Regions from separate parts of the Homo sapiens genome. Here all the other regions are linked to region 3. The links come from fine-mapping of genetic effects on gene expression. A gene starts in region 3. Each other region holds a variant in brackets. All regions are shown on one strand. Distances are from middle to middle. Region 1 overlaps SFI1 (SFI1 centrin binding protein). Region 2 overlaps DRG1 (developmentally regulated GTP binding protein 1). Region 3 holds the start of SFI1 (SFI1 centrin binding protein). Region 4 has its middle 9.4 kb from the start of LINC01521. Region 5 overlaps SFI1 (SFI1 centrin binding protein).

The links.
Region 1: its variant is fine-mapped to the expression of SFI1 in whole blood (TOPMed, PIP 0.94).
Region 2: its variant is fine-mapped to the expression of SFI1 in whole blood (TOPMed, PIP 0.93).
Region 4: its variant is fine-mapped to the expression of SFI1 in esophagus muscle (GTEx, PIP 0.90).
Region 5: its variant is fine-mapped to the expression of SFI1 in CD4 T cells (BLUEPRINT, PIP 0.95). The same link has a PIP of 0.9 or more in atrial appendage and whole blood.

Annotation. Positions count from the first base shown.
Region 1 is chr22:31,591,021-31,596,876 of GRCh38, reverse strand. All of the region lies in intron 15 of SFI1 (SFI1 centrin binding protein), which reads right to left. Among named protein-coding and RNA genes, the nearest start is that of MIR7109, 28 kb to the left of the region's middle. RefSeq lists enhancers at 3,426-4,234, 5,044-5,853. The variant T/G (reference allele first, on the strand shown) is at 2,983.
Region 2 is chr22:31,432,467-31,438,322 of GRCh38, reverse strand. It overlaps DRG1 (developmentally regulated GTP binding protein 1), which reads right to left. Exons shown (of 9, transcript NM_004147.4): 9 at 3,871-4,451. The coding sequence ends at 4,352. It also overlaps a transcript of EIF4ENIF1 not described here. Among named protein-coding and RNA genes, the nearest start is that of DRG1, 36 kb to the right of the region's middle. The variant A/G (reference allele first, on the strand shown) is at 3,213.
Region 3 is chr22:31,493,630-31,499,485 of GRCh38, reverse strand. It overlaps SFI1 (SFI1 centrin binding protein), which reads right to left and starts at 2,950. Exons shown (of 33, transcript NM_001007467.3): 1 at 2,849-2,950. RefSeq lists silencers at 1,929-1,988, 2,889-3,108 and enhancers at 2,599-2,868, 5,143-5,192.
Region 4 is chr22:31,353,204-31,359,059 of GRCh38, reverse strand. No RefSeq gene overlaps it. Among named protein-coding and RNA genes, the nearest start is that of LINC01521, 9.4 kb to the right of the region's middle. The variant G/C (reference allele first, on the strand shown) is at 2,985.
Region 5 is chr22:31,603,914-31,609,769 of GRCh38, reverse strand. SFI1 (SFI1 centrin binding protein) reads right to left here. Exons shown (of 33, transcript NM_001007467.3): 19 at 5,366-5,461; 20 at 4,825-4,901; 21 at 3,340-3,442; 22 at 1,737-1,833. Among named protein-coding and RNA genes, the nearest start is that of MIR7109, 15 kb to the left of the region's middle. The variant A/G (reference allele first, on the strand shown) is at 3,462.

The DNA of each region.
Region 1 (5,856 bases), 97 kb before region 3:
TGTGTGTGCGTGTCTTCAGTACTGAAGCCATTTAGAAACGGGTACTGTGTGTGCGTGTTTTCAGTACTGAAGCCATTTTTTTTTTTTTTTTTTGAGATGGAATCTTGCTCTGTCACCTAGGCTGGAGTGCAGTGGTGCGATCTCGGCTCACTGCAATCTCCACCTCCTAGGTTCAAGCGATTCTCCTGCCTCAGCCTCCCGAGTAGCTGGGATGTGCGCCACCATGCCTGGCCAATTTTTGTATTTTTAGTAGAGATGGGGTTTTGCCATGTTGGTCAGACTGGTCTCCAACTTCTGACCTCAGGTGATCCACCTGCCTTAGCTTCCCCAAGTACTGGGATTACAGGTGTGAGCCACCGCGTCCAGCCTGAAGCCATTTTTGAATGAATCTTATACCAGCCCACAATACATGACTAGGTAAAGGCAAAGCTGCTCTGTCTGCAGAAGCCAGAAGAGACAAGAGATGTCCTTTCATCAGCCTCTATTTCCCGTGGCCACCACCTAAAACCATCTCCCTGGACTTCGTACTAAGGAAGCCAGAGTTCTGGCTAACCTCAAACTAGCATTCAAAGCCCTCCAGATGGATAGACAGATAGATAGAGAGAGAGAGAGATATTTATTTTGAGATGGAGTCTCGCTCTGTCATCCAAGGCTGGAGTGCAGTGGCGCCATCTCAACTCACTGTAGCCTCTGCCTCCTGGGTTAAAGTGATTCTTGTGCCTCAGCCTCCGGAGTAGCTGGGATTATAAGCATGCACCACCACGCCCCGCTAATTTTTGTATTTTTAGTAGACATGGGGTTTCACCATGTTGGCCAGGCTGGTCTGAAACTCCTGACCTCCAATGATCCACCCACCTCTGCCTCCCAAAGTGCTGGGATTACAGGCATGAGCCGCCACACCTGGCCTGAAATCCTCCAGATTAAAGATGACTGCAACTTCTCCCAATGCATGCCCCTCCATCTCACCCCTCTGTCCTAAGATAAAGTACACTGAACTTAAGGTAATTTCCAAAACTGTCATTTTACTAGTTCCATGTACCTGCTCAAATATCTTTCGAATATCTATCTATAGGGTCAGCCCAATCTCTTCAGTCTGGGCCTCCCCATCTTGCCCACTCCAGCCACCATCCTCACCCTCTCACTCACAGGAAGCCTCTCCCAGATACTTCCATGCTCAGTCTCCCTCAGCACTAGCTCTGAGCACTGGAAGAACTTGTGGCTGACATGACTGGGGACACGTGGATCTGTTCTCTTGAATTGGTTCTCAGTTGTTTCTTATCTCCTCACAAAAATTTCACCCTCCTACAAAGTCATCAAAAAGATCTTCCTCTTGATCAAGAAGAAAGCACCTGGACTTTGGAACTGGAGATGTGAATTAACCTGGCTGTACCACTTACTGGTTGTGTTACCATTTATCATTTTGAACCTGACCTCTCAGAATCACTGTGAAAAGGAAATTATTAATGAAGATAATGATGCCATGGGCAGAATGAGTTTATGTATTTGTTTTCTGTCTCCCATCACACAATGCCCAACACAGTGGCAGACATACAGTTAGTGATTAATAATTTCTTCATTACAGGCTGGGCGTGGTGGCTCATGCCTGTAATCCCAGCACTTTGGGAGGCCAAGGCGGGTGGATCACGAGGTCAGGAGTTCGAGACCAGCCTGGCCAACATGGTGAAACCCCGTCCCTACTAAAGATACAAAAAATTAGCCGGGCGTGGTGGCGCACACCTGTAATCCCAGCTACTTGGGAGGCTGAGGCAGGAGAATTACTTGAACCCAGGATGTGGAGTTTGCCGTGAGTCAAGATGGTGCCACTGCATGCCAGCCTGGGCGAAAGGACAAGACTCCAACTCAAAAATAAATAAATAAATAAATAAATAAATTATTATTATTTCTTCATTATGTCCCACCATATACTAAGAACCTGCTGTGGGCAAGTTTGTCCCTGTGGGAACTAAAAAGATGTAGATCTGCTCCTTGAGCTTTCTAATTTTTTTTTTTTTTTTTTTTTTTGAGACAGAGTCTCACTCTGTCGCCCAGGCTAGAGTGCAGTGGTGTGATCTCAGCTCACTGCAAGCTCCGCCTCCCAGGTTCATGCCATTCTCCTGCCTCAGCCTCCTGAGTAGCTGGGACTACAGTCGCCCACCACCACGCCCGGCTAATTTTTTGTATTTTTAGCAGAGACAGGGTTTCTCCGTGTTAGCCAGGATGGTCTTGATCTCCTGACCTCGTGATCCGCCCGCCTTGGACTCCCAAAGTGCTGGGATTACAGACATGAGCCACCAGGCCCGGCCTTTTTCTTTTCTTTTTTTTTTTTTTTGAGACGGCGTCTCGCCCTGTCACCCAGGCTGGAGTGCAATGATGCGATCTCAGCTCACGGCAACCTCCATCTCCCAAGTTCAAGCAATTCTCCTGCCTCAGCCTCCCGAGTAGCTGGGATTACAGGCATGTGCCACCAGACCGGGCTAATTTTTGTATCTTTAGTAAAGAGAGGGTTTCACCATGTTGGCCAGGCTGGTCTTGAACTCTTGACCTTGTGATCCGCCCGCTCCGGCCTCCCAAAGTGCTGGGATTACAGGTGTGAGCCACTGCACCCGGCCCGACCTTTGTAATTTTGTTGATGACTATCATTTCAAGACTTCAAAAAGCCAGGTCTAGCAGAACAGGAACTAAGTGTTTCGGGGAAATGACACTTAAGAATGTCTGCCAAGGTGAGGCAAGGTCCCACCGTGCTCTGATCCAGAAAGCTAATGGGCTGCTTTAATGGAGCTCTCAGTGGCTAATAATGAAGGTTACAAACAGGCTGTTTTGAAAGCCCTTGAAATAAAGATGGACACCTCCCTCTCCCTCTCCCTCTCCCTGTCCCTCTCCCTCTCCCTCGTCTCCGTCTCCCCATGGTCTCCCTCTCATGCGGAGCCGAAGCTGGACTGTACTGCTGCCATCTCGGCTCACTGCAACCTCCCTGCCTGATTC[T/G]CCTGCCTCAGTCTGCCGAATGCCTGCGATTGCAGGCACGCGCCGCCACGCCTGACTGGTTTTGGTGGAGACGGGGTTTCGCTGTGTTGGCCGGGCCGGTCTCCAGCCCCTAACCGCGAGTGATCCACCAACCTCGGCCTCCCGAGGTGCCAGGATTGCAGACGGAGTCTCGTTCACTCAGTGCTCAATGGTGCCCAGGCTGGAGTGCAGTGGCGTGATCTCGGCTCACTACAACCTACACCTCCCAGCCGCCTGCCTTGGCCTCCCAAAGTGCCGAGATTGCAGCCTCTGCCCGGCCGCCACCCCGTCTGGGAAGTGAGGAGTGTCTCTGCCTGGCCGCCCATCGTCTGGGATGTGAGGAGCCCCTCTGCCTGGCTGCCCAGTCTGGAAAGTGAGGAGCGTCTCCACCCGGCCGCCATCCCATCTAGGAAGTGAGGAGCGCCTCTTCCCAGCCGCCATCACATCTAGGAAGTGAGGAGCGTCTCTGCCCGGCCGCCCATCGTCTGAGATGTGGGGAGCGCCTCTGCCCCGCCGTCCCATCTGGGATGTGAGGAGCGCCTCTGCCCGGCCGAGACCCCGTCTGGGAGGTGAGGAGCGTCTCTGCCCGGCCGCCCCGTCTGAGAAGTGAGGAGACCCTCTGCCTGGCAACCACCCCGTCTGAGAAGTGAGGAGCCCCTCCGCCCGGCAGCCGCCCCATCTGGGAGGTGAGGAGCGTCTCCGCCCGGCAGCCACCCCGTCCGGGAAGGAGGTGGGGGGGGGTCAGCCCCCCGCCCGGCCAGCCGCCCCATCCGGGAGGGAGGTGGGGGGTCAGCCCCCCCGCCCGGCCAGCCGTGCCGTCCGGGAGGGAGGTGGGGGGGTCAGCCCCCCACCTGGCCAGCCGTGCCGTCCGGGAGGGAGGTGGGGGGGTCAGCCCCCCGCCCGGCCAGCCGCCCCGTCCGGGAGGTGAGGGGCGCCTCTGCCCGGCCGCCCCTACTGGGAAGTGAGGAGCCCCTCAGCCCGGCCAGCCAGCCCGTCCGGGAGGGAGATGGGGGGGTCAGCCCCCCCGCCTGGCCAGCCGCCCCGTCCGGGAGGGAGGTGGGGGGGTCAGCCCTCCCCCCGGCCAGCCGCCCCGTCTGGGAGGTGAGGGGCGCCTCTGCCCGGCCGCCCCTACTGGGAAGTGAGGAGCCCCTCTGCCCAACCAGCCGCCCCATCCGGGAGGGAGGTGGGGGGGTCAGCCCCCCGCCCGGCCAGCCGCCCTGTCTGGGAGGGAGGTGGGGGGGTCAGCCCTCCGCCTGGCCAGCCGCCCCGTCTGGGAGGTGAGGGGCGCCTCTGCCCGGCCGCCCCTACTGGGAAGTGAGGAGCCCCTCTGCCCGGCCAGCCGCCCCGTCCGGGAGGGAGGTGGGGGGGTCGGCCCCCCGCCCGGCCAGCCGCCCCATCCGGGAGGGAGGTGAGGGGGTCGGCCCCCCGCCCGGCCAGCCGCCCCGTCCGGGAGGGAGGTGGGGGGGTCAGCCCCCTGCCCGGCCAGCCGCCCCGTCCGGGAGGGAGGTGGGGGGGGTCAGCCCCCCTGCCCGGCCAGCCACCCCGTCTGGGAGGTGAGGGGCGCCTCTGCCCGGCCGCCCCTACTGGGAAGTGAGGAGCCCCTCTGCCCAACCAGCCGCCCCATCCGGGAGGGAGGTGGGGGGGTCAGCCCCCCGCCCGGCCAGCCGCCCTGTCTGGGAGGGAGGTGGGGGGGTCAGCCCTCCGCCTGGCCAGCCGCCCCGTCTGGGAGGTGAGGGGCGCCTCTGCCCGGCCGCCCCTACTGGGAAGTGAGGAGCCCCTCTGCCCGGCCAGCCGCCCCGTCCGGGAGGGAGGTGGGGGGGTCGGCCCCCCGCCCGGCCAGCCGCCCCATCCGGGAGGGAGGTGAGGGGGTCGGCCCCCCGCCCGGCCAGCCGCCCCGTCCGGGAGGGAGGTGGGGGGGTCAGCCCCCTGCCCGGCCAGCCGCCCCGTCTGGGAGGGAGGTGGGGGGGGTCAGCCCCCCTGCCCGGCCAGCCACCCCGTCTGGGAGGTGAGGGGCGCCTCTGCCCGGCCGCCCCTACTGGGAAGTGAGGAGCCCCTCTGCCCGGCCAGCCGCCCCGTCCGGGAGGGAGGTGGGGGGGGTCAGCCCCCCCGCCCAGCCAGCCGCCCCGTCCGGGAGGTGAGGGGCGCCTCTGCCCGGCCACCCCTACTGGGAAGTGAGGAGCCCCTCTGCCCAGCCAGCCGCCCCGTCCGGGAGGGAGGTGGGGGGTTCAGCCCCCCGCCCGGCCAGCCGCCCCGTCCGGGAGGGAGGTGGGGGGGGTCAGCCCCCCTGCCCGGCCAGCCGCCCCGTCCGGGAGGTGAGGGGCGCCTCTGCCCGGCCACCCCTACTGGGAAGTGAGGAGCCCCTCTGCCCGGCCACCACCCCGTCTGGGAGGTGTGCCCAATAGCTCATTGAGAACGGGCCAGGATGACAATGGCGGCTTTGTGGAATGGAAGGGCGGGAAAGGTGGGGAAAAGATTGAGAGGTCGGATGGTTGCCGTGTCTGTGTGGAAGGGAGTAGACATGGGAGACTTTTCATTTTGTTCTGCACTAAGAAAAATTCCTCTGCCTTGGGATCCTGTTGATCTGTGACCTTACCCCCAACCCTGTGCTCTCTGAAACATGTGCTGTGTCCACTCAGAGTTAAATGGATCAAGGGCGGTGCAAGATGTGCTTTGTTAAACAGATGCTTGAAGGCAGCATGCTCATTAAGAGTCATCACCACTCCCTAATCTCAAGTAACCAGGGACACAAACACTGCGGAAGGCCGCAGGGTCCTCTGCCTAAGAAAACCAGAGACCTTTGTTCACTTGTTTGTCTGCTGACCTTCCCTCCACTATTGTCCCATGACCCTGCCAAAT
Region 2 (5,856 bases), 61 kb after region 3:
GATAAAGATTCTACAGAATACAGTACAGTTCTGAGTCCCCTTTCCTAACTGGAGGTTTTTCAGTCCTGCTATGAGGTGATACTTATTTCCCATGCTACTCAAGTTAATTTACCAGAGTTCTAGATATTTGTCCATTCAGGACCATTTTAGGACTCCATGCTAAAGGGTCAGATAATGAGGTAAAGGTCAAGGTGGTTGGATTTTTGACTACAAGGGTAGTAGAGTCTTGGGCAGCCTAAGTCTTGACCGTTTGTTAGGGAATAATGACTATAAGCCTGGAACTGCCCACCCTGCCGTGTACTTGCAGGAATACAAGAAAGCAGGTCACCTTTCAAGAAAACCTGGCTTTATGGATTATGCATGAAGTCAGTCTCTTCCTGGTACTTTTCTTTCAGCCTCATTAGTAATCCCCTTCCCCCATGCTATTCACTCCATGTGATTCCTCAGCTTCAGAAATAGACCCTCTGTTTAGAATTTTTGGCAAATGCTTTCTGGTTTCCACAGGTGGAAGCTGGAACGCAGTCCCAAGTGTCAATGGCAGAACACAGACACCTGAATCCAGTTCCACCTTTCCTGTGTATCCTCTTCCACTTATCTTACTTCCCCTTCATGTTGAACCAACGTTAATAGGTGCAAGGTAAGGAGGACTGGGTTGAAGCTGCTAGTAAAGGCTTCCTTTTCAGACTAGAAGCTAGTAGGACAGAAACAGGTACCATGCAAAGAGCAAAGCCATTAGCTGGTGATTGGCAAATGGCGCCAGAAGGAAATAAGGGAGTATTGCTAAGAGTATCAGCAGAAGCTAGACATACAGGTTTTAGCAAAAGTATTTTGGTAAACACAAGGACTAGAGGAAGCGGGAGGGTGGGGGGGGGATGAAGGCAAAAGACACATTAATGCAGTCTTCAAGGAGCTAAGACCTTGATATAGGATGAGGGCAGAGAGGAAGGGATGTCTTTGGAGAAACTTTTGATGTCTTGCAGGCACGAGATGAGTTCACAAGCAATCAGTGCTGGAAGGATGTGCAAAATAAAAGTTAAGAGAAGCTGAGGATATAGAAGGCATCCTGAAAGTAAAACAGCTGAGGACCACAAAGCATATCATGGAAAATCTGTTAAGCAGGGGAGGTCAGGTAGGAGAGGAAAGAATAGTCCCTCCCAAAGGAAGCAGTTAAATAAGTCTGTGGGAGGTCAGTGGTAAAAGGAAGTGGGAATGAAGTGAACAGAGAGTGCAGCTAGGCCTTCCCCTAGGAGATAGCTACTGAGTGTCTTTTAAGCCAGACTCTATTAACAGGGAAGGGAAGTGGGAGGTCCATTGGCCTTTGTGAACTATGAGCATAAACACAAACCAAGAATGACGATAACTTACAGGGTTAAATTCTGGTTCTTCAATAATTCTATTCCCTTTACCAACAATTGATTCAAAAATAGACATGTGACCCAATTTTAGGCCACGAGACAACAAACTGGGTGGCTTCTGGAAAACAGCTTCCCAAAAAGGTAAGACCAAGTTCCCTTCCATTTCAGCCGCTTAAGTTAGCACTTTCTGCTAAATGCAGCTAAACGTGTTCTAACTAGTTAAATGGCACAGAACAATGGATCTGTTTACTTGTAATAAAGTCAGGAAAGAAACATGGAATATGTAAAAGCACAGGAAATTCAAATCATGCTATGACAGCCAAACCAGTAAAGTCTTAGAGTTAATGAGGAGAAAGCCTTTAGCTGTACCTCCACAGTGGCCATACCCTAGGCAGCATTCCCAATACCAAACATACCCCTCTCCCAGAACTGCTAAGTCTAAGCCCAGAGGAGAAAGGGAAAGGTAGGGTAATTCTCTCCTCAAGGAGACCAGGGGTCCCTGGACCAAGCCATGGGGAGGGTGCTAAATGATGGACACAAAGCCTATTCACAGAACATCCTGAGGCCTTAGGATGAACTGGATTTCAGCAACCTTCTCTCCCCAACATTCTGGCAGTGCTAAATGCTTGCTCAATGAAAGTGAATTTTGGCAAGAAGAGTCCCCAGAAACCCAATATGTTCTGGCTGGAGAACAAACCTTCCTGGAAATCCCGTAGCTCAGAAAGCCAATGTTTCCCTGTTCCCCTGCAGGGTTGGGGCAGGCTCTAGACCACGGCCTCTATCATGAATGCACCAGTGGTATCAAGGCCGATATTCTGAAAAGTAACTAGCATACCAGGCTTCAGGAGCTTACCTTCCAGGTCTGGGGACAGTGACAAGCCCAAGCTCCAGGAAGACTATCAAAGGGAAACAACTGCTATTAGGGCAGCAGGAGAAACAAGCACTGGAGAGAGGCTGAGTATGTGAATAATCCCACACTGTGATCACTCATGACCTGCTAAAAGCTCTGGCTTGCCTCATTTGAAGAAATAATCAAATTCTGTCTTGCTGCAAACCTATTCTTCCTGATTTTCTCAGGGACTACTCCATCCATACTGAAATAATGTTTGACTTCTTCCCAAGAGCAAGTTAGTTAACAAGTTTAAGATTTCTCCCCCATACTTACATGTCCATACCCTCCCTTCTGCCCATATTCTTTAATTATTTAATTTTTATTTCTTGGAGACAGGGTCTCACTCTGTCACCCAGGCTGGAGTGCAGTGGCCCATCTTAGCTCACTGCAGCCTGGACCTCCCAGGCTCAAGCAGTCCTCACCTCAGCCTCCCGAACAGCTGGGACTGCAGGCATGCACCACCATGCCCACCTAATTTTTTAAATTTTTTTGTAGAGATTGGGCCTCGCTATGTTGTCCAGGCTGGTCTCGAACTCCTGAGCTCAGGCGATCTTCCTGCCTTGACCTCCCAAAGTGCTGGGATTACAGGTGTGAGCTACTGGGCCCAGCCCCCTCCGTCCATATTGTTACCCACCACACCAAGATTTTCATCAACCAGTTTCACATAATCAGAGCAATCCCCTTAAATTCCTATATTCCTAGTCCCCCAAATATCTGATTATGTCCTTAGCATCCTCTCAAGTAGTCCTGACACCAAGCCTCCTCCTAAACCGCCCACCTCCATATATACACATATGTGAACACACAAACCTGCTTTGATCACACCAGTTGCCTCACTTGCAATGCACCTTCGCCCAAGTTATTGGCTGAAGCCAGGACTTTCATGGGGATTCAAGCAGAAAGTCTGGGTTATGGGAAAGAAGGCATTTAGTTGGCCGGGCACGGTGGCTCACACCTGTAATCCC[A/G]GCACTCTGGGAGGCTGAGGCAGGCGGATCACCTGAGGTCAGGAATTCAAGACCAGCCTGACCAACATGGAGAAACCCCATCTCTACTAAAAATACAAAATTAGCGGGGCATGGTGGTACCTGCCTGTAATCCCAGCTAATCAGGAGGCTGACACAGGAGAATCGCTTGAACCCGGGAGGCGGAGGTTGCGGTGAGCCGAGATCATGCCATTGCACTCCAGCCTGGGCAGCAAGAGCGAAACTCCATCTCAAAAAAAAAAAAAGAAAAAGAAAAAGAAAAAAGCATTTTAGTGGCCCAGGTGGCAACATAGTTCAGCTCAACATTCAACCCAACACTGATGATGTACAGCTGTGCTCTGCATAGGGCAGACAGCCCAGTAAAAGGCTCGGTGCAACAAAAGCCAAGAGTCATTGAGTACTTACAAATTGCTTAGCACAGTATTTGACATATAAGTACCATCTCCCTCCATTACTAACAATCACCACCGCAGAAAGTAAGTGCTATTACTATCCCCATGTTACATGAGGAAACTGAGGCTCATAAAGGTTGGGTAATTTGTTCAGGGCTCCACAGCTAACTAGAGGTGGACCTGCAATTTCAAACCCTGATCTGCCTGGTCGGAGTACTTAATTACATGATCTCCCAAAATAGGTTAGCCTTGCGGGGAGTGATCAATTAACTTACATAAAGTCCTTCCTCTCTCCAGTATCATGTGGGAAAGACTACTTGAAAGGACTGAAAGCCATATCTAGTTTGGAAGGGGTTCCCATAAGTAAACATCAAGTAAGATGCAGCATGTCATATTTTTATCCATTTCACACTCAAGATGAAGTTCCCAAGGATCCCTTCTGTAGCTGCTTCACCGTATATACCCTTCCTCATTCAGCCCATCCCAAAACAAATTCTGACAATGACACATGAGCTGCATGTAGCTGACCAGCCTACCAGATCTTTTATGCAGTTCGACATACAAGGTGACACCAAGGTAAGACAAATGAAGTTCCAGTTTGGGTGCCTCCATCTCCCTCCCCTGGATCCTGATCCAGTGACTGCCAAAACCAGAAAGAACTGGGGTAGGGTGCTTGATCATGGGGAACGCTGTTGTGGTTCGTCCGGCAGATGGGAAAAGGGAAAGGTTTCACTTCTTCACAATTTGAATGACATCCTCATCCTCCAACGTATGGTCTTTACCCACTTTCTGAGGATTGTGTTTCACAGAGAGACCCCAGACCAGAGCACTGCATGGAAGGGAAAAAGAACAGTCAGTGTAAATAATAACCTAGCTTCTGCCCTATTTGCCTGGATGCCACCCTTCTGCTCAGATTTAGTATCATACCCTTAAGAACCATAGACCTACAAAAGCTTTATCTTCCCTAGCAGCATGAGACACTGAAGCCTTAACATAAAAGCCGGTAAAGACTTCTGGAAGTTGTGTGGTTCCTCTTATTGCAGAAAGTCAAAGACAAAAAACATGTTTAGTATAAAGAGCCTAGTTTAAAATTAAAAGAAAGCATGGATTTGTTATAGAGAAATACTCTGGGCCGGGCGCAGGGGCTCATGCCTGTAATCCCACCACTTTGGGAGGCCGAAGGGTGCGGATCACCTGAGATCAGGCGTTCAAGAAAAGCCTGGCCAACATGGTGAAACCCCGTCTCCACTAAAAATACAAAAATTAGCTGGGCATGGTGGCGGGTGCCTGTAATCCCAACTACTCGGGAGGCTGAGGCAGAAGAATGGCTTGAACCCGGGAGGCGGAGGTTGCAGTGAGCCAAGATCATGCCGTTGCACTCCAGGTTGGGCAACGAGCGAAACTCCGCCTCAAAAAAAAAAAAAAAAATCCGTCTTTAATCTTCATAGAGAAATACCCTGAAAATTTCAGACTGATTCTTACAGATACAATATCACTTATAGACTGTTAGAGAATACCTGTTTTTGCTGGGTTTCCTGAAACCATCAGTGGGTACTGACAAGAAATTAGGGCCTCCCTCTTCAGCCATGCCAGGAAAATCTTCCTCCCTAACCAGAAACTGTAATTGATATGTCCTCCCGATTTACTGGAATATGTGAAGGTAATTTATATCCATGGGCCTCCAAACTTAAGAATATGTTGTGCTAGAGATGAAAACTGGTGAATAAGACACCGAGACCTGCCTCACAGAGACTAAGAACTATGTACCAAGAGTAAAAAAGGTGGCCATATTGTTGTTATATTATCATTGAGTCAAAACCTCTTTAAAAAATCTATATTCCAGGCCGGGCACGGTGGCTCATGCCTCTAATTCCAGCACTTTGGGAGGCTGAGGCGGGCGGATCACGAGGTCAGGAGTTCGAGACCAGCATGGCTAATATGGTGAAACCCTGTCTCTACTAAAAATACAAAAATTAGGCCAGGCGTGGTGGCTCACACCTGTAATTCCAGCATTTGGGAGGCCCAGGCGGGCGGATCATGAGGTCAAGAGATCGAGACCATCCTGGCCAACATGGTGAAACCCCATCTCTACTAAAAATACAAAAAAATTAGCTGGGCGTGGTAGCGCGCACCTATAGTCCCAGCTACTTGGGAGGCTGAGGCAGGAGAATCGCTTGAACCTGGGAGGCGGAGGTTGCAGTGAGCCAAGATCGCGCCACTGCACTCCAGCCTGG
Region 3 (5,856 bases):
CAAGAAACCACTTTCACCAGGCACGGTGATTCACACCTGTAATCCCAGCACTTTGGGAGGCTGAGAGATGGAGACCATCCTGGCTAACACAGTGAAACCCTGTCTCTACTAAAAATACAAAAAATTAGCCAGGCGTGGTGACACATGCCTGTAATCCCAGCTACTCGGGAGGCTGAGGCAGAAGAATCACTTGAACCCGGGAGGCGGAGGTTGTGGTGAGCACTTTGGGAGGCCAAGGCAGGAGGACTGCTTGAGACCAGGAGTTCAAGACCAGCCTGCTCAACTAACAAGACCCTCATCTCAAAAAAAAAATTAGCGAGGCATGGTATTACACACCCAGGTACTGAGGAGGCAGGAGGCTAAGGCAGGAGGATCACTTTCGCCTAGAAGTTCAAGTCTGCAATGAGCCATGATCACCACTGCACTCCAGCCTGGACAACAGAACAAGACCCTGTCTGAAAACAAAAGTAAAAACAAAGCCGGGCATGTAGTGGCTCAGGTCTGTAATCCCAGCACTTTGGGAGGCCGAAGCAGGTGGATCACATGAGGTCAGGAGGTCAAGAGTGTGCCATGCACTCCAGCCTGGGCAATAAGAGTGAAACTCCATCTCAAAAAAAAAAAAAAAGAAAAAAAGAAGCCACTCCTCATCCATCCAAGTTTTATCATGAGGTTGCAGCAATTGGTCACATTTTTAGGCTCCCCTTCTAATTCCAGTTTGCTTGATTTTTCTATCATATCTGCAGTTACTTCCTCCACTCGGGTCTTGAGTCTCTCAGTTATCCATGGCGGCCTGACTCAACTTTTTCAAACTCCTTTTAATGATTTTTTTTTTTTTTAGACGGAGTCTTGCTCTGTCGCCCAGGCTGGAGTGCAGTGGTGCAGTCTTGGCTCACTGCAACCTCTGCCTCCTGGGTTCAAGCAATTCTCATGCCTCAGCCTCCTGAGTAACTGGGATTACAGGCGCCCACCACCACACCCAGCTAATTTTTGTATTTTTAGTAGACACAGGGTTTCTTCAAGTTGGCCAGGCTGGAATTGATATTTTAACCCCTTCCCACAAATCATGAATGTTCTTAATGGCACCTAGAAATCCTTTCCAGAACATTTTCAATTTACTTTGCCCAGATCCATCAGAGGAATCACTACCTATGGCAGCTATGGGGTCACAAAATATATATATATTTTTTTGATATGGAGTCTCATCACTCTGTCGCCCAGGCTGGAGTGCAATGGCGCAATCTTGGCTCACTGCAAGCTCCGCCTCCCGGGTTCAAGTGATTCTCCTGCCTCAGCCTCCCCAGTAGCTGGGATTATGGGTGCCCGCCACCACATCCGGCTAATATTTTGTATTTTTTAGTTGAGACGGGGTTTCACTATGTTGGCCAGGCTGGTCTCAAACTCCTGACCTCGTGATCCACCCGCCTCGGCCTCCCAAAGTGCTGGGATTACAGGCATGAGCCACCATGCCCAGCCCACAAAATGTATTTCTTAAATAATGACTTGAAAGTCAAAATTACTCCTTGAACCATGGGCTATAGAATGCATACTGTGTTAGCAGACATGTAAAGTAACATTAATCTCTTTGTACATCTTCATCAGAGTTCCTTGGTGACCAGGTGCCTTGTTAATGACCAGTAATATCTTGAAAGGAATCCTTTTTTCTGAACAGTAGGTCTCGATAGTAGGCTTAAAATATTCAGTAAACCACACTGTAAATATGATGTAAAGACATTCAGTAAAGAGATGTGTGGTCATCCTGGGTTTGTTGTTGCATTTACAGAGCATAGGCATTTCTAGCTTCGTCATTTCTAGCTTCGTCATTTCTAGCTTTTGATATAAAGTGAGAGACATGGAACTCTTCCTTTCACTGAACACTTAGGGGCCACTGTGGGGCTATTAATTGGCCTAATTTCAATATTGTTGCCTCTCAGGCTACAAGGAGGACCGAGAGGGAGGAGAGAAACAGGGAACTGGCAGGTAGTGGAGCAGTCAGACACAACACTTAAGTTTGCTGTCTTATACCAGTGAGGTTCGTGGCCACCTAAAACAATTGCAATAACAACATCAAAGATCACTGATCACAGATCACTGTAACGGTGCACCTGAAATAAAAAGTTTGAAATATAGCGATAGTTACCAAAGTGTAAGTGACAGGAAGTGGGCACATGCTGTTGAAAAAATAGTTGCTCGGTGCAGGGCTGCTTGCTACAAACTTTCAATTTGTAAAAAACACGGTATCTGTGAAGTGCAATAAAGCGAGGTATGGCTGTACTCAAGTCCCTCACATCATTCATTCAACAAATATTTACAACACATCTACACAGCAGTTAAGAAACCTGAACAGCCTCCCATAAAAACAGGTACCCACCTCCCACGCGGGGAAGGCTTCCAGGTTTGTTTACTGCGTTACTCCCTGCGGGCTCAGTGGGAGTAAGGTCGCCCATATACCAGCCCTTCCGCTCCTGGGCCACGGAGCCGGGAGGAGGAAACCCCTGATTTGGATCCGCGCACGCTAAGGGGCATTGCGTGGACTCGAGCACCGGCCAGGAGCGCACTAGACGCCTGGGAGGATGCGGTGCCCCCAGGGCGGAAGACAAGAAGCCGAGAAGACGCGGCGGGAGAGGATGGCAGGCTCCGGGCCCCGTCCTGCGCCCTCTTGTCGCACTTCCTCCATTCCCGCACCACAGACCCGCAGGTAGACAACATCACCTGCACTTTCAGGGGAGGAAGCGGAGGCTCGGACAGATTTCACCGGGCTCGGAGGAACCCGACTGAGGTCCTTGCCGGGCTCACTGCCGGAAAGGCCGAGCCCAGAAGAGGGTGGGGACGTTAGGGCCGGGCCTCGTACCTGGGGAAGCCGAGCCATCGGGCCTGACGTTGGGAGAAAACCCGGCGGTATACGGCGATCCGGGACCTGCTTCTTAACTCCCGCGCGGTCCACGCCCGCCTCAGCGCTTCGCGCGCCTCTAGACGCCAGTCTCGCGCGGGCCCGCCCTCGTCTCCACGGCGACGCGGCGCGCACGAGGACCACCCCGCCCAGACCCCGGGGCTTGCGCAGCCTCAGTCGGGTAGGTGGCGCACTTCGGGTTGCTTTGCAGCAGCAGCAATGAGAATCGGTTTCGAGGGGCGTGGAGCATGCACCCTCTGGGCATCCCCACCGAGGGTTCTTTATCTCCTTGGCTCGCCAGCTTCGCTCTGAGCTCAGCTTGCTACTGCTCCTCTTAGACAAGAGAAGTGGGAGGTATTCCGAGGCGGAACCCCGAGTTACGCCGCCCGCGGCCGAGCACTAAAGATGAGGTTCCAGCTGGGAGGCGGCTGCGTACGAAAGTCCTCCCTCCCTCACTTCCGGACTCGTGCGTGGGCCTCTCTGGCTTTTGGTTCACAGGGAGTGGAAACCGGAACCCGTGGAGTATGACCCGCCCATGCGTGGACCCGGCAGGTTGCTACAACTTGCACTTGGAGGGGAGAGGTCCCAAGGCCCCCGAATTAGAAATGCCAGGCTCATCTCTTTTTGTAACCCTTCATTTTAAAATGTAATTAATAAGCACTCTTTTTGTTAAATTTTTAAATTTGGGCCGATCCTAATAATCTTAAAAATAGGAGTGGGAGGGGTAAGTGGGACTTTTCAAATACTTTTTTACGTGCTTTGTAAAACATTTGAAAGCACGTGAGATTCCTGGTGCAGAGACTAAAAGCAGTAGTTATTTATTTGAAAGATTTTACGCTAAAAACAGGAAAATTAACTTGTTGGGTGTCTCGGGCTTAGCATCACAGACAATTTGTATTTTTGCCCTATTTTCTACATGCTAATTTTTGCAATTAAAACATTTATTATTTATTTTTTGAGAAGGAGTCTCCCTCTGTAGCCCAGGCTGCAGTGCAGTGGCGTGATCTGGGCTCACTTCCACCTCCACCTCCCGGGTTCAAGTGTTTCTCCTGCCTCAGCCTCCCAGGCGCACGCCACCACGCCCGGCTAATTTTTTTTTGTTTTTTTGATAGAGACGGTTTTTACCATGTTGGCCAGGTGTGTCTCGAACTCCTGACCTCAGATGATCCGCCCGCCTCGGCCTCCCAAAGTGCTGTGATTACAGGCATGAGCCACCGCGCCTGGCCCTAAATTATGTTTTATATGGTGAAACCTCGTCTCTACTAAAAATAAAATTTAAAAAATTAGCCGGGGGTGGTAGTGGGCACCTGTAATCCCAGCTACTGGGGAGGCTGAGGCAGGAGAATCGCTTGAACCCAGGAGGCAAATGTTGCAGTGGGCCGAGATCGTGTATTTGCATTTGCCTGGGCAACAAGAGCAAAACTGTCTCAATAATAATAATAATAATAATTTAAAGGGAGTTCTACTTTAGCGGACATCAATGCTAATGTTTTAGGGACAACTTTTATCTGAACTTAATGTGGCCAAGTAGTTTTAAAATAATTTAGTAAGCTTCAAGGTTGTAATTAACAGTATAACAAAAATATATTTACTGTAATTTAGCCTAAGTACTTTTATGTAATTATGTAAATTTATATAAATTATATATTTAGGATAAGTCAATAAGCACTTCTTTCTAGATGATTTGAGCTAATTTCCTAATGCTTTCTTCCTGTTATGTGCATTTACCATCCTCAGCTTTGACAAATTTAGGAGGGATGAAAGGCATTTCCATTTGAGTTACAATGAAAATAGTCCTGTTGGGAAAGATTAGAAGATAATAGTACATAATAATAGCTAGGACAAGGACATCTTAGAGGCTGGGCACGGTGGCTCACACCTGTAATCTGAGCATTTTGGAAGGCTGAGCCAGGAGAATTGCCTGAGCCCAGTAGTTCAAGAACAGCCTGGGCAACATAGTGCCCATCTCTACAAAATATAAAAAATTTGACCAGGCGCGGTGGCTCACGCCTATAATCCCAGCACTTTGAGAGGCCAAGGTGGGTGATCACTTGAGGTCAGGAGTTTGAGACCAGCCTGGCCAACACGGTGAAACCCCATCTCTACTACTAAAAATAGAAAAATTAGCCAGGCGTGGAGTCACGAGCCTGTAATCCCGGCTACTCGGGGGGTTGGGGCAGGAGAATCGCTTGAACCTGGTGGGGGCGGTTGCAGTAAGCCAAGATCCTGCCACTGCACTCCAGCCTGGGTGACAGAGCGAGACTCTGTCTCGAAAAAAAAAAAAATCTAAGGGTTACTCTTGGAGCAAGAAAAACTGAGTAGGAAAAAGCCCATTTAGAGAGGTGCAATCCAGCCTTCTGTGATGAGGCTGCTGAAAGGTCATGGCCTGGCATTAAACTCTCTCACAGGTGCTCTCATAATTTCTGGGTTTCTAGTATTTTCTTTTTTCTTTTTTTTTTTTTTTTGAGACAGTTTCACTTTTGTCACCCAGGCTGGAGTGCAGTGGCGCGATCTCGGCTCACTGCAACCTCCGCCTCTCAGGTTCAAGCAATTTTCCTAGCTCAGCCACCCAAGTAGCTGGGATTACAGGCATATGCTACCACGCCCAGCTAATTTTGTATTTTTAGTAGAGACGGGGTTTGGTCACGTTGGCCAGGCTGGTCTAGAATTCCTGATCTCAAGTGATCCTCCCACCTTAGCCTCCCAAAGTGCTAGGATCACAGGCATGAGCCACCATGTCCGGCCAGTTTCTGGTATTTTCATTTGCTTCTCTGCTGTTCTTGGACTGCTAATTTCCCCGACTGACTGAACCTTTGAGACCCCTTATGCCAAACTTTGGGCCAACAATTTAGACCTAAACCAAGATCTTACACATATTTAGTAAAGAACTAGAATAATTTCTCTCTCAAAGAGCTTTCCCAAGCTGATACTTGAAAATTGGTTATTAGTTGCAGAAGGGGGCATTTAGA
Region 4 (5,856 bases), 140 kb after region 3:
CTCTGTCACCCAGGCTGGAGTGCAGTGCAGTGGTTCAAACACAGTACACTGCAGCCTCAACCTCCTGGGCTGAAGCCATTCTCCTGGCTCAGCCTTTCGAGTAGCTGGGACCACAAGCTCATGCCTCCTTGCCTGGCTAATTAACAAAAAAATTTTTTTGTAGCCACACGGTCTTGCCATATTGCCCAGGCTGATCTTGAACTCCTGGGCTCAAGCAATCCTCTTGTCTTAGCCTCCCAAAATGCTGGGATTACAGGTGTGAGCCACCACACTCGGCTATGATTCTTCTTTTTATTTATTTATTTTTATTTTTTTGAGATGGAGTCTGTTGCCCAGACTGGAGTGCAATGGCACGATCTCGGCTCCCTGCAAGCTCCGCCTCCTGGGTTCACGCCATTCTCCTGTCTCAGCCTCCCAAGTAGCTGGGACTACAGGCGCCCGCCACCACACCCAGCTAATTTTTTGTGTTTTTAGTAGAGATGGGGTTTCACCATGTTAGCCAGGATGGTCTCGATCTCCTGACCTTGTGATCTGCCCCCCTCGGCCTCCCAAAGTGCTGGGATTACAGGGGTGAGCCACCGTGCCCGGCCCCGATTCTTCTTTTTATTTATTTATTTGAAACAGAGTCTTCGTCTGTCACCCAGGCTGGAGTGCAGTGGCGCAATCTTAGCTCACGGCAACCTCTGCCTCCTGGGTTCAAGCGATTCTCGTGCCTCAGCCTCCCGAGTAGCTGGGACTACAGGCACGCACCATCACACCCAGCTAATATATATATATATTTTTTTTTAGTAGAGGCTGGGTTTTGTCATGTTGGCCAGGCTGGTCTCGAACTCCTGGCCTTAAGTGATCTGCCCCACCCTCAGCCTCCCAAAGTGTTGGGATTACGGGCATAAACCGCCATGGCCGGCTCATAATTCTTATTTTAAATCTAAATTTTGAATTTCAGAATACTGTTGTTTTAAGCTCCTTTCCCCCACCAATCTACTTACCTCCCACCTCCAGTAGAAAACGCCTCATAAAAGCAGCACTCGTCGCCCCACAAGCTGTCTTTCTCCATTTCTAGTCCAGCATATGAAATCAGATTATCATATTAAAGCTTCTGGTATGTATGATGTGCAAAGACGTTCTTCTCAGTGCTATCTATAATAGCAAAGAAAATGAAAAAGGACACAACCTAAGTGTTCCACAGGAGAAACCGTTAGAGAATCAAGATCAAGATACAACCAATCATCCAGTCGGGAAGCTTTGCAGCCCGTGAAAATAAGATTTCTTTAATATTTACTTATTTTATTTTTAATTTTTATGTAATGACTTGAAAGGTACTCATGATATTATGGGTTCTCTATGGCTTTTCTTTTCTTTTTTTTTTGAGGCAGAGTCTTGCTCTGTTGCCCAGGCTAGAGTGCAGTGGTGCGATCTCGGCTCACTGCAACCTCCGCCACTGGATTCAAGCGATTCTCTTTTCCTCAGCCTTCTGAGTAGCCGGTATTACAGGTGTGCGTCACCACACCTGGCTAATTTTTGTATTTTTAGTAGAGACGGGGTTTCATCATGTTGGTCAAGCTGGTCTTGAACTCCTGAACTCATGATCCACTCGCCTCAGCCTCCCAAAGTGCTGGGATCATAGGTGTGAGCCACCACGCCTGGCCTCTCTATTGCTTTTCAAATGACAAAAGTAACTAGTTGCGTTGTAAAAATAAAACACTATATAAGTGTTTTTGTTTTTGTTTTTGAGACAGAGATTCACTCTTGTTGCCCAGGCTGGAGTGCAATGGCACGATCTCGGCTCACTGCAATCTCTGCCTCTCAGGTTCAAGCGATTCTCTTGCCTCAGCCTCCCAGGTAGCTGGGTTTACAGGCATGTACCACCATGCCTGGCTGATTTTTGTATTTTTAGTAGAGACAGGGTTTCACTATGTTGGTCAGGCTTGTCTCGAGCTCCTGACCTCAGGTGGTCCACCCACCTTGGCCTCCAGAAGTGCTGGGATTACAGGTGTGAGCCATCGTGCCTGGCGCCTCTATTGCTTTTCAAATGACAAAAGTAACCATTTGCGTTGTAAAAATAAAATAAAACACTATGAAAGTGTTTAAGATAAAAAGTGAAAGTGGCCCCAAAACACACTTACCTACAGTCCCAGTGTTAATCTGCAACATATTCATAATATACTGCTTCATTTAAGAAGCAGGAGAGGGCAGGTGTGGTGGTGGGTGCCTGTAATCCCAGCTACTCACTTGGCTGAGGTAGGAGAATTGTTCAAGCCCACAAGTTCAGGTTGCAATGAGTTATGAACTCATCACTGCACTCTACCCTGGGCGATAAAGTGAGACACTCATTTCTTAATGTAAAAAAAAAAGCATATATTCATTAGTAGTATTTTTAACAACAGTGCATTGAAACTGAAAAAAAAAAGTCAAGATGAAAATATACCAACATTTGGCCAGGCACAGTGGCTCACGCCTGTAATCCCAGCACTTTGGGAAGCTGAGGCAGGTGGATCACCTGAGGTCAAGGAGTTCAAGACCAGCCTGACCAACATGGTGAAACCTCATCTCTACTAAAAATACAAAACTTAGCTGGGCATGGTGGCAGGCGGGAGGGTGAGGCAGGAGAATCACTTGGACCTGGGAGGTGGAGTTTGCAGTGAGCTGAGATGGCGCCGTTGCACTCACTCCAGCCTGGGCGACAAGAGCAAAACTCCATGAAAAGAAAAAAACAGAGAGAGAGAGAAAAAGGAGGAGGAGGAAAAAGAAGAAGAGGAAGAGGAAGAAGAAGGAGGAGGAGGAGAAGGAAGAAAGAGAGAAAGAAAGAAAGAAAGAAAGAAAAAAAGAAAGAAAAAGAAAGAAAGAAAGAAAGAAAGAAAGAAAAAGAAAGAAAGAAAGAATATACCAACATTTTAGTACTTCTATTTAAGTGGTGAGACACTATGGATAATTTATTATCGTTTCCTCTGCTTTGCCTCATTTTCCAAATTATATTTGATGGA[G/C]AAAATAAACATTAAAAAGAAAAATAAGGCTGGGCACAGTGGCTCACGCCTGTAATCCCAGCACATTGGGAGGCCAAGGCGGGCAGATGGCTTGAGCCCAGGAGTTTGAGACCAGCCTGAGCAACGTAATGAAATCTTTGTCTCTACAAAAAATACACAAATTAGCCGGGCGCAGTGGCACACGCCTGTAATCCCAGCACTTTGGGAAGCCGAGGCGGGCAGATCGCTTCAGCCTAGGAGTTTGAGACCAGCCTGGACAACATGGTAAAACCCCTCTACAAAAAGTATAAAAGTTAGCCAGGTGTGGTGGCTGACACCTGTGGTCCCAGTCACTCTGGAGGCTGAGGAGGGAGGATTGCTTGAGCCAAGGAGGTGGTAGAAGCTGCGGTGAACCGTGATGGCACCACCACACTCCAGCCTGGGTGACAGAGCAAGACCCTGTCTTTAACAAAAAATAAAAATAGGCTGGGCTTGTGCTCACGCTCACGCCTGTAATCCCAGCACTTTGGGAGGCAGAGGTGGGCAGATCACCTGAGCTTAGGAGTTGGAGACCAGCCTGGCCAACATGGTGAAACCCTGTCTCTATCAAAAATACGAAAATTAACCAGGCATGGTAGTGCACACCTGTAGTCTCAGCTACTCGGGAGGCTGAGGTGGGAGGATCGCTTGAGCCCCAGAGGCAGAGAATGCAGTGAGCTGAGATTGTGCCACTGCACTCCAGCCTGGTTGGCACAGCAAGACCCTGTCTCAAAAAATAATAAAAATAAAAACAGCTGGGTGCAGTGGCTCACGCCTGTAATCCCAGCACTTTGAGAGGCTGAGGTGGGTGGATCACCTGAGGTCAGGAGTTCGAGACCAGCCTGTCCAACCAGTGAAATCCCATCTCTACTAAAAATACAAAAATTAGCTGGGGGTGGTGATGGGTGCCTGTAATCTCAGCTACTTGGGAGGCTAAGACAGGAGAATCACTTGAACCTGGGAGGTGGAGGTTGAAGTGAGCCGAGATAGCATTACTGCACTCCAGCCTGGGCAACAGAGTGAGACTCCGTCTAAAAAAAAAAAAAAAGAAAGAAAGAAAAAAAATTATCTGGACATGGTGGCATGTGCCTGTAGTCCCAGCTACTCAGGAGGCTGAGGCAGGAGAATTGCTTGAACCTGGGAAGCGGAGGTTGCAGGGAGCTGAGATCATGCCACTGCACTCCAGCCTGGGTGAAAGAGCGAGACTCTGTCTCAAAATATAAAAAATACAAAAATTTTTAAAAATAAAATTAAAAAATAAAAGTGTGTGGCACCTACTCTCACTTGCTCCTGTTTTCACCATGTGACTTGCCTGATCCCCCTTTGCCTTCTGCCATGATTGAAAGCTCCCTTAGTCTTCACCAGAAACTGGGCAGATGCCAGCACCATGCTTCTATAGAGCCTGCATAACCATGAGTCAATTAAACGTCTTTTCTTTTCTTTTTTTTTTTTTTTGAGATGGAGTCTCAGTCTGTCACCCAGCCTGGAGTGCAGCGATGCGATCTTGGCTCACTGCAACCTCCACCTCCCAGGTTCAAGTGATTCTCCTGCCTCAGTCTCCCGAGTAGCTAGGACTACAGGTGCCCGCCACCACGCCCAGTTAATTTTTTATATTTTTAGTAGAAACGGGATTTCACCATGTTGGTCAGGCAGGTCTTGAACTCCTGACCTCAGGTGATCCACCCACTTCGGCCTCCCAAAGTGCTGGGATTACAGGCTTAAGCCCCCGTGCCTGGCCTCTTTTTTTCTTTTTTTGAGACAGAGTTTCGCTGTTGTCACCCAGGCTGGAGTACAATGGTGTGATTTTGGCTCACTGCAACCTCCGACTCCTGGGTTCAAGCGATTTTCCTGCCTCAGCCTCCCGAGTAGCTGGTATTCCAGGCACACACCACCTTACCTGGCTAATTTTTGTAATTTTAGTAGAGACGGGGTTTCACCATGTTGGCCAGGCTGGTCTTGAACTCCTGACCTCAGGTGATCTGCCGGCCTCAGCCTCCCAAAGTGCTGGGATTACAGACGTGACCCCAAATATCTTGTCCCCACAGCATCTCCATTGCCCAGCACGGTGCGTGGCACAAATAAGACACCCATAAATACTTCTTGAATGAATAAATGAAAAAATCATTTTGGCTCTCAAATTGTCAGACATTTCACTAACCACCATTACAGCTAACCCAACATGGGAAGGACCTAGTGTTTTTATACACTGCTGTTGAATCAAATGTCACTCAGGAATCTCACCTAAAAGCTTAACTCATGCGAGCACTATGACTTTTTTTTTTTTTTTTTTTTTGAGACTGAGTCTCACTCTGTCACCCAGGCTGGACTGCAGTGGTGTGATCTTGGCTCACGGGCAACCTCCAGGAAGACCTTCAGGCACTTCTGGACATTAACTCTTTCTCTGTAATGTGCAGCTGATTTTCTTCAGTTAGACAGTTGCCTTTCACGTGTATGTATGTGTGTGGCCATGTTTCCTGCCCCCGTGTCACCAGCGATACCTTGACTCTCTCTCCTTCAGGTAATCAGGCACAAAAAAGAAAATCCTGGGGTGGGCACGGTGGTTCACGCCTGTAATCCTAGCACTTTGGGAGGCCGAGGCGGGCGGATCACTTGAGGTCAGGAGTTAGAGACCAGCCTGGCCAAAATGGTGAAACCCCATCTCTACTAAAAATACAAAAATTAGCCGGGCATGGTGGCGGGCGCCTGTAATCCCAGCTACTCTGGAGGCTGAGGTAGGAGAATTGCTTGAACATGGGAGGCAGAGGTTGCAGTGAGCTGAGATCATGCCACTGCACTGCAGCCTGGGCAACAAGAGCGAAATTCCATCTCAAAAAAACAAAAAAACAAAAAAATC
Region 5 (5,856 bases), 110 kb before region 3:
GTAAACTAGAAACACAGTGCTGGTTTCTGAGCTGAGGAGAAGCTCCAGGACCCAGCAGCACATTCGTGGCGCAGTAATGCAGCCGTGTGGGATGGCTGACCCCAGGGTTTTGTCCCCAGGATGTGTGTTGAAACATGCTCATTAACACACACGCTACAGTCGGAACCAAACCAAAGCTGATTCAGTTTTGTCCTGGAGCAAACTCTATTAAACCAACTTAACCACTTGGTCAATTTCTCTATGGGCCAATTTAAACAATTTCTAAATGTTTTCACTTTTATTTGTATTTTCATTTATTCTAAAAATGAGCTGTCCCCTTCAGCGTGTCAGATTCTCCTACTATGGGACCCCTAGCTGTGTTAGGAGACAGCTCCCCATGGGTCTGCCGCGTGTCTGTGCATCTTGCAAGCAGGGGCATGGACTCCTGTTCTAGACTATCTTTCCAAAGATTTTTTAAAAGAGACTAGGTCTTGGCCAGGTGTAGTGGCTCACGCCTGTAATCCCAGCACTTTGGGAGGCCGAGACGGACGGATCACGAGGTGAGGAGATCGAGACCATCCCAGCTAACACGGTGAAATCCTGTCTCTACTAAGAATACAAAAAATTAGCCTGGCGTGGTGGCACACACCTGTAGTCCCCGCTACTCTGGAGGCTGAGGCAGGAGATTCGCTTGAACCCCAAGAGGTGGAGGTTGCAGTGAGCCGAGATCGCACCACTGCACTCCAGCCTGGGAGACAGAGTGAGACTCTGTCTCAAAAAAGAGAGAGACTGGGTCTCATTCTGTCACCCAAGCTGGAGTGCAGTGGTGTGATCATAGTTCATTGCAGCCTCCAGCTCTTGGGCTCAAGTGATCCTCCCACCTCAGGCTCCCAAGTAGCTGGGACTATAGGTGTGTACCACTGTGCCCTGCAATCTTTCCAAAGATGTATATACAGCAGGCAGCAGGACTTCCTGAGATCGAATTAGAAAGTCTCTGGCCCCTAAACATTTAAGGGCCCAGCTACACAAGGAAGCAGGACGCTAACACGGTGGGGGCTGCCCTGACAAGCAGCAAGGACTTTCCCATCAAAACAACCCCCTCCCCAACCACCCCAAGCTCCTCCATTCCAGCTTCTTTTCTTTATTTCTCTGTAGATCTCAAGCTCTAGCCTTCCATTTTAACATAAACTGGTTGGCAGTCAGTTGGGAATAGATTTCTAAGATATACTGGACTGAACAGTGCCCCCTCCACACCTGCCGTATTCATGTCCTTCCTGGAACCTCACAATGTGACTTTTATCTGGCACTAGGCTCACTGCAGATGTAATTGGTTAGGATGGTGTCACACTCAAGTAGGGTGGGCCCTTCATCCGATATGACCAGAGTCCTTCTAAGGGACCCAGACACAGGAAGGGAACGATATGTCAAGATGGGGCAAAGACTGGAGCAATGGGTCTACACGTCCAGGAAAGCCATGACAAGCAAGAAACAAGCTGGGAGAGGCAAGGAAGGACCCTCCCCTAGAGCCTGTGGAGAAGCATGGCCCTGCCACACCTTGATCGCTGACTGCCAGCCTCCAGAACTGAGAGGGCAATTTTGTGTTGTTTGAAGACTCCCAGTCTGTGGTACTTTGTCATGGCAACCACAGGGAACTGGCATGTATGAGGAGGAGACAGACTTATGCGGGCCACAGGGATCTCCACAACAGCGCTGTCTTCACATTCCTCAACATGACTTGCTTCTGGGGCCCCACTTACCCCTGTCCAGCACCTTCTGGGCCTCCCAGATGGCACAGTCCTCCTGCTGTCGGTAATACATCTGCACTGACACAGCTTCCCGCCACTGGACCAGGACCTATGGGCAGGCAAGGAGCACAGCAAGAGTCACTATACCTCCTGGCTTCCGGGTCCACCCCAGGTCTGTGACGGTGGCTCCTGGAGAGGCAAGGCCAAGCTGTTGCCATTTGCTTCTCACACACGGTCCAGGAAGTAACTGCCTTGCACGCAGACCACTGAGCAATAGGACAGGGCCCCAGCCCCTCACAGGAAGCCCAGCATTTCAGCTGCTGGGACTCTTCTACCAGGATTTACATATCATACCATGCCATAAAGTAGTGAAGTCATTATATACATGGGTCTTAATTCTATTTTTATATATATATAAAATATATATATGTAATTTTTTTTTTGAGACATAGTCTCGCTCTGTCACCTGGGCTGGAGTGCAGTGGCATGATCTCGGTTCACTGCAACCTCTGCCTCCCAGGTTCTAGCGATTCTCCTGCCTCAGCCTTCTGAGTAGCTGGGATTACAGGCATGCACCACCACACCCAGCTAATTTCTGTATTTTTAGTAGAGACGGAGTTTCACCATGTTGGCCAGGTTGGTCTCGAACTCCTGACCCCAAGTGATCCACCCGACTCAGTCTCCTAAAGTGCTGGGATTACAGGTGTGAGCCACTGCGCCCGGCCTCTATTACTATTTAGTAAATGGAACACACCTACGTCGTATACATTCTTTTGTATGAGTGATGCCTACAAAATCACAATAACAAAACACTTGCCCAGGGAATGCCTGGTGCCTGCTCTGCGAGCTGTCATGAACTCCATTCCCACCAAAAAGGCCTCCTCTTCAAGCTCTGAAGCCAAGCAAAGATTCCTGTGTTCCTTCTTCCAGGGGAAGGGAGGCACAGGCTAGCTTCGGGTATTTTTTCTTTTCTTTTCTTTTTTTTGAGACAACCTTGCTCTGTTGTCCAGGCTGGAGTGCAGTGGTGCAATTCGGCTCACTGCAACCTCCACCTCCTGGATTCAAAGAGCCTGTAATCCCAGCACTTTGGGAGGCTGAGGCAGATGGATCACCTGAGGTCATCAGTTCAAGACCAGCCTAGCCAATGTGGTGAAACCCCATCTCTACTAAAAATACAAAAATTAGTCGGACGTGGTGGCGCAAGCCTGTAGTCCCAGCTACTCGGGAGGTTGAGGCAGGAGAAATCGCTTGAACCTGGGGGATGGAGGTTGCAGTGAGCTGAGATGATACCACTGCACTCTAGCCTGGGTGACAGAGTGAGACTGTCTCAAAAAAAAAAAAAAAAAAAAAAAGAAAAAAAGAAAATACTGGTTCTGATAAGAACTAGTTCACTTATGATGTGTTATGTTTCTATTTAATGCATATTGGTTTGTAATTCAGTAAAAAACTAAACATGTGCCCACATGGATGTTTGTGTGTGTGCTGGAGGAAAGTTACCCATTTTCTAGGTTCCTTATTCAGTTCAAATCTCTGGCACCACCCCCTACATCCCACGCCCTCACCAGAACACAGTCCCAACTCTCCTGGGTGACCAGCTTGCCTCCTTATACCTCACCTTGGAACATATGGTCCTTCTGTAATGAGTACTTGCTTGAAAGGTTTTTTTGGCTTCATCCACTCGGGCCATGGTGTTCTCTTTCCAGCGACGTAATGCCCCGCTGCAGATGCATGGGTGCG[A/G]GGAAGGCAGATGACACCAGGATAGAGAGAGAAGGGAGGCTTCTGTGAATCATTCCTACTTCTTCCCCTACTCCTGAGTCAGGGACTCTACACCTAAGAATGTCTGTTTCACCAACACCTATGTTTACTTGCACATCTATGTCCAACAAATGGCTACTGAGCAGCTGCTCTGGGCTGGGCACCAAGAGTGCATGAGGGACCCAGCACTGCTGGAGACCAAACTCCAGGTGCTACGGGGATAACAGGGCATAACCAGGCAGTGGCAACACAGGTGACTCACACTGTGATAAGAGAAGTGTGGAGAGACAGGGAACCTGGAGGAAGGTTGCCTACGCCTCAGCTTGCTGCTGAGTTAGCTCAGGGAGTTCTTGCTTATTCCACCCTGTCTGAAGAGCGGGATGGGTGCTCTATGGGACTCCATATGAGGGATGGAGGCATTTATTTTATTTATTTACTTTTGAGAGACAGGGTCTCACTCCATCGCCCAGGCTGGAGTGCAGTGGCATAATCACGGCTCACTGTGGCCTTGACCTTCAAGGTTCAAGTGACCCTCCCACCTAAGCCTCCCAAGTACCTGAACCACAGGCATACATGACCGTGCCTAGCTAATTTTTTTTATATTTAGTACAGACAAGGTCTCGCTATGTTGCCCAGGCTGGTCTGAAACTCCTGGTGTCAAACAGCCTCCTAAAGTGCTGGGATTACAGGCATGAGCCACCGCGCCCAGCTAAGGATGGAGGTGTTTAAAGTCCACGAGACCCACTGTCCATAGGCCACCAGGAGTATCATGTGCTGAACAAATACAAAGGAAGGAAATGAAAGGGGGCATGTGGGAGGACTGCTGGGAAGGAGTGAGGTTAGAGTTGGGCTTAGAAAGAGTGGCAGAAGCTGCAGAAGCACCCTCCACAGGGGTGAGTGGTGCAGATGGTCTGACAGGGCCTAGAGGTGACGCTGGAGAGTCAGTGACAGGCCTGCAGAGCAAGCTGGAAGGGGACTACTTGGAAATTGACAGGAAAGGGAGTCGCTGAAGCCTCTGGAGTGGAAGAGATGACAAGGTGCCTTGCAAAGCTGAATTTTGTAGGCGTGAAGCAGGGAGGAAAAAGTGCTCAGAAGAGCAAGACAAGTGGCCTTTAAGGCATGCAGGTAACAGCTGCTTTCCAAGGTCCTGCCCTGCACACAGCAGGGGCTTAAGACATGAAGGCGAACCCGTGAGTGAAGTGGAAAAGCCAAGACCATGATATTAGCGACTAGGAACCCGGGATCATCCCCGACCTGGCCCTCAGCAGGACCCCCTAAAAGGCTGGGGTTTGGAGTGCATTCCTTGTTCCCCAGCTGGAGCTTGGGAGGCGCCCGGGAGACTCACCGCAGCAGCTGCCTGTTGTGCTGGCTCTCCCTGGCTGCCACCTCCCGGAGGATGCTTCGCACCCTGCCCTGGTAAGTCTGTAGGGGACAAGGAAGACTGAGGCTGCTCTTGGGCCCACACTTCCCCCTGTTTAGGCAGGCCTCAGAGGTGCATCTACCACAAGGCTGCCATGCCCAGAGAACTCAAAAAGGGTAGGAAGAGGCCAACAGCCCCTGGTCCCAGGGCCAGCAGACCCTCCCAGACGACAGGGAGAAACTGTCTCACAGGCCCTCACCTCCTAAGTCAAACCATGGGACTCCAGGGAAAGGAGCTGCTTTCGCTACAAGGCTAGTACCCACAGACAGCACTTGTTTCCACTTGGCCAAGCAAGAATCAAAGAACCCTATGGCCTAAGGCCCGCTGTCCGGGGCACCTGCTTGGTTTGAGGTGTGTCACGTGACTCTGTTCTGGGACGGACAGGAAGAACAAGGAAGGAAAACAAAGTCTCCAGAAACCTCCCCTGTCCCCACAGCAAGATCAGGAGGGAAGCAGCAGTTCCTACCACCCATGCCTGCAGCGCCCTGTGCAGCACGCTGTGCTGGTGGTGCAGGTCTGCTCGCATCAGCTTCTGCCGCTCCGCTCCCCGCAGGGCCAGGCACTGCAGACAGAGGAGAAAGCAGCTACCGTGGGCTGGGGTCTGAGTTGGGGGTGGCTTCCTGCTTTGCCTCCATTTTATACATCATCTGTGTGAGTGTAAATTAACCTCTCTGGCCTCATCTATAAATACGTGCTTCTTAGGGGTTCTGTGATGATTTGATGAGGTAAGTGCTTGATTTGCGGTAAAAGCTCAATTAATGTGAGTTTAAACATGTTTTACACTCAGTAGGACGTAGGACTCCTGTAAATGGTTAGATCAGGAATTTTAGATGCAGTAAGTTCAAATAAGAACAGCCTAGGATCTGAAAGAACACAAAATTTTGAGCCAAATCAGCTCATAAAACTGAGTTAACACTTTCTATGCTGCCTGTTCTCCTCCTTCAGCTCAGAGGTAGG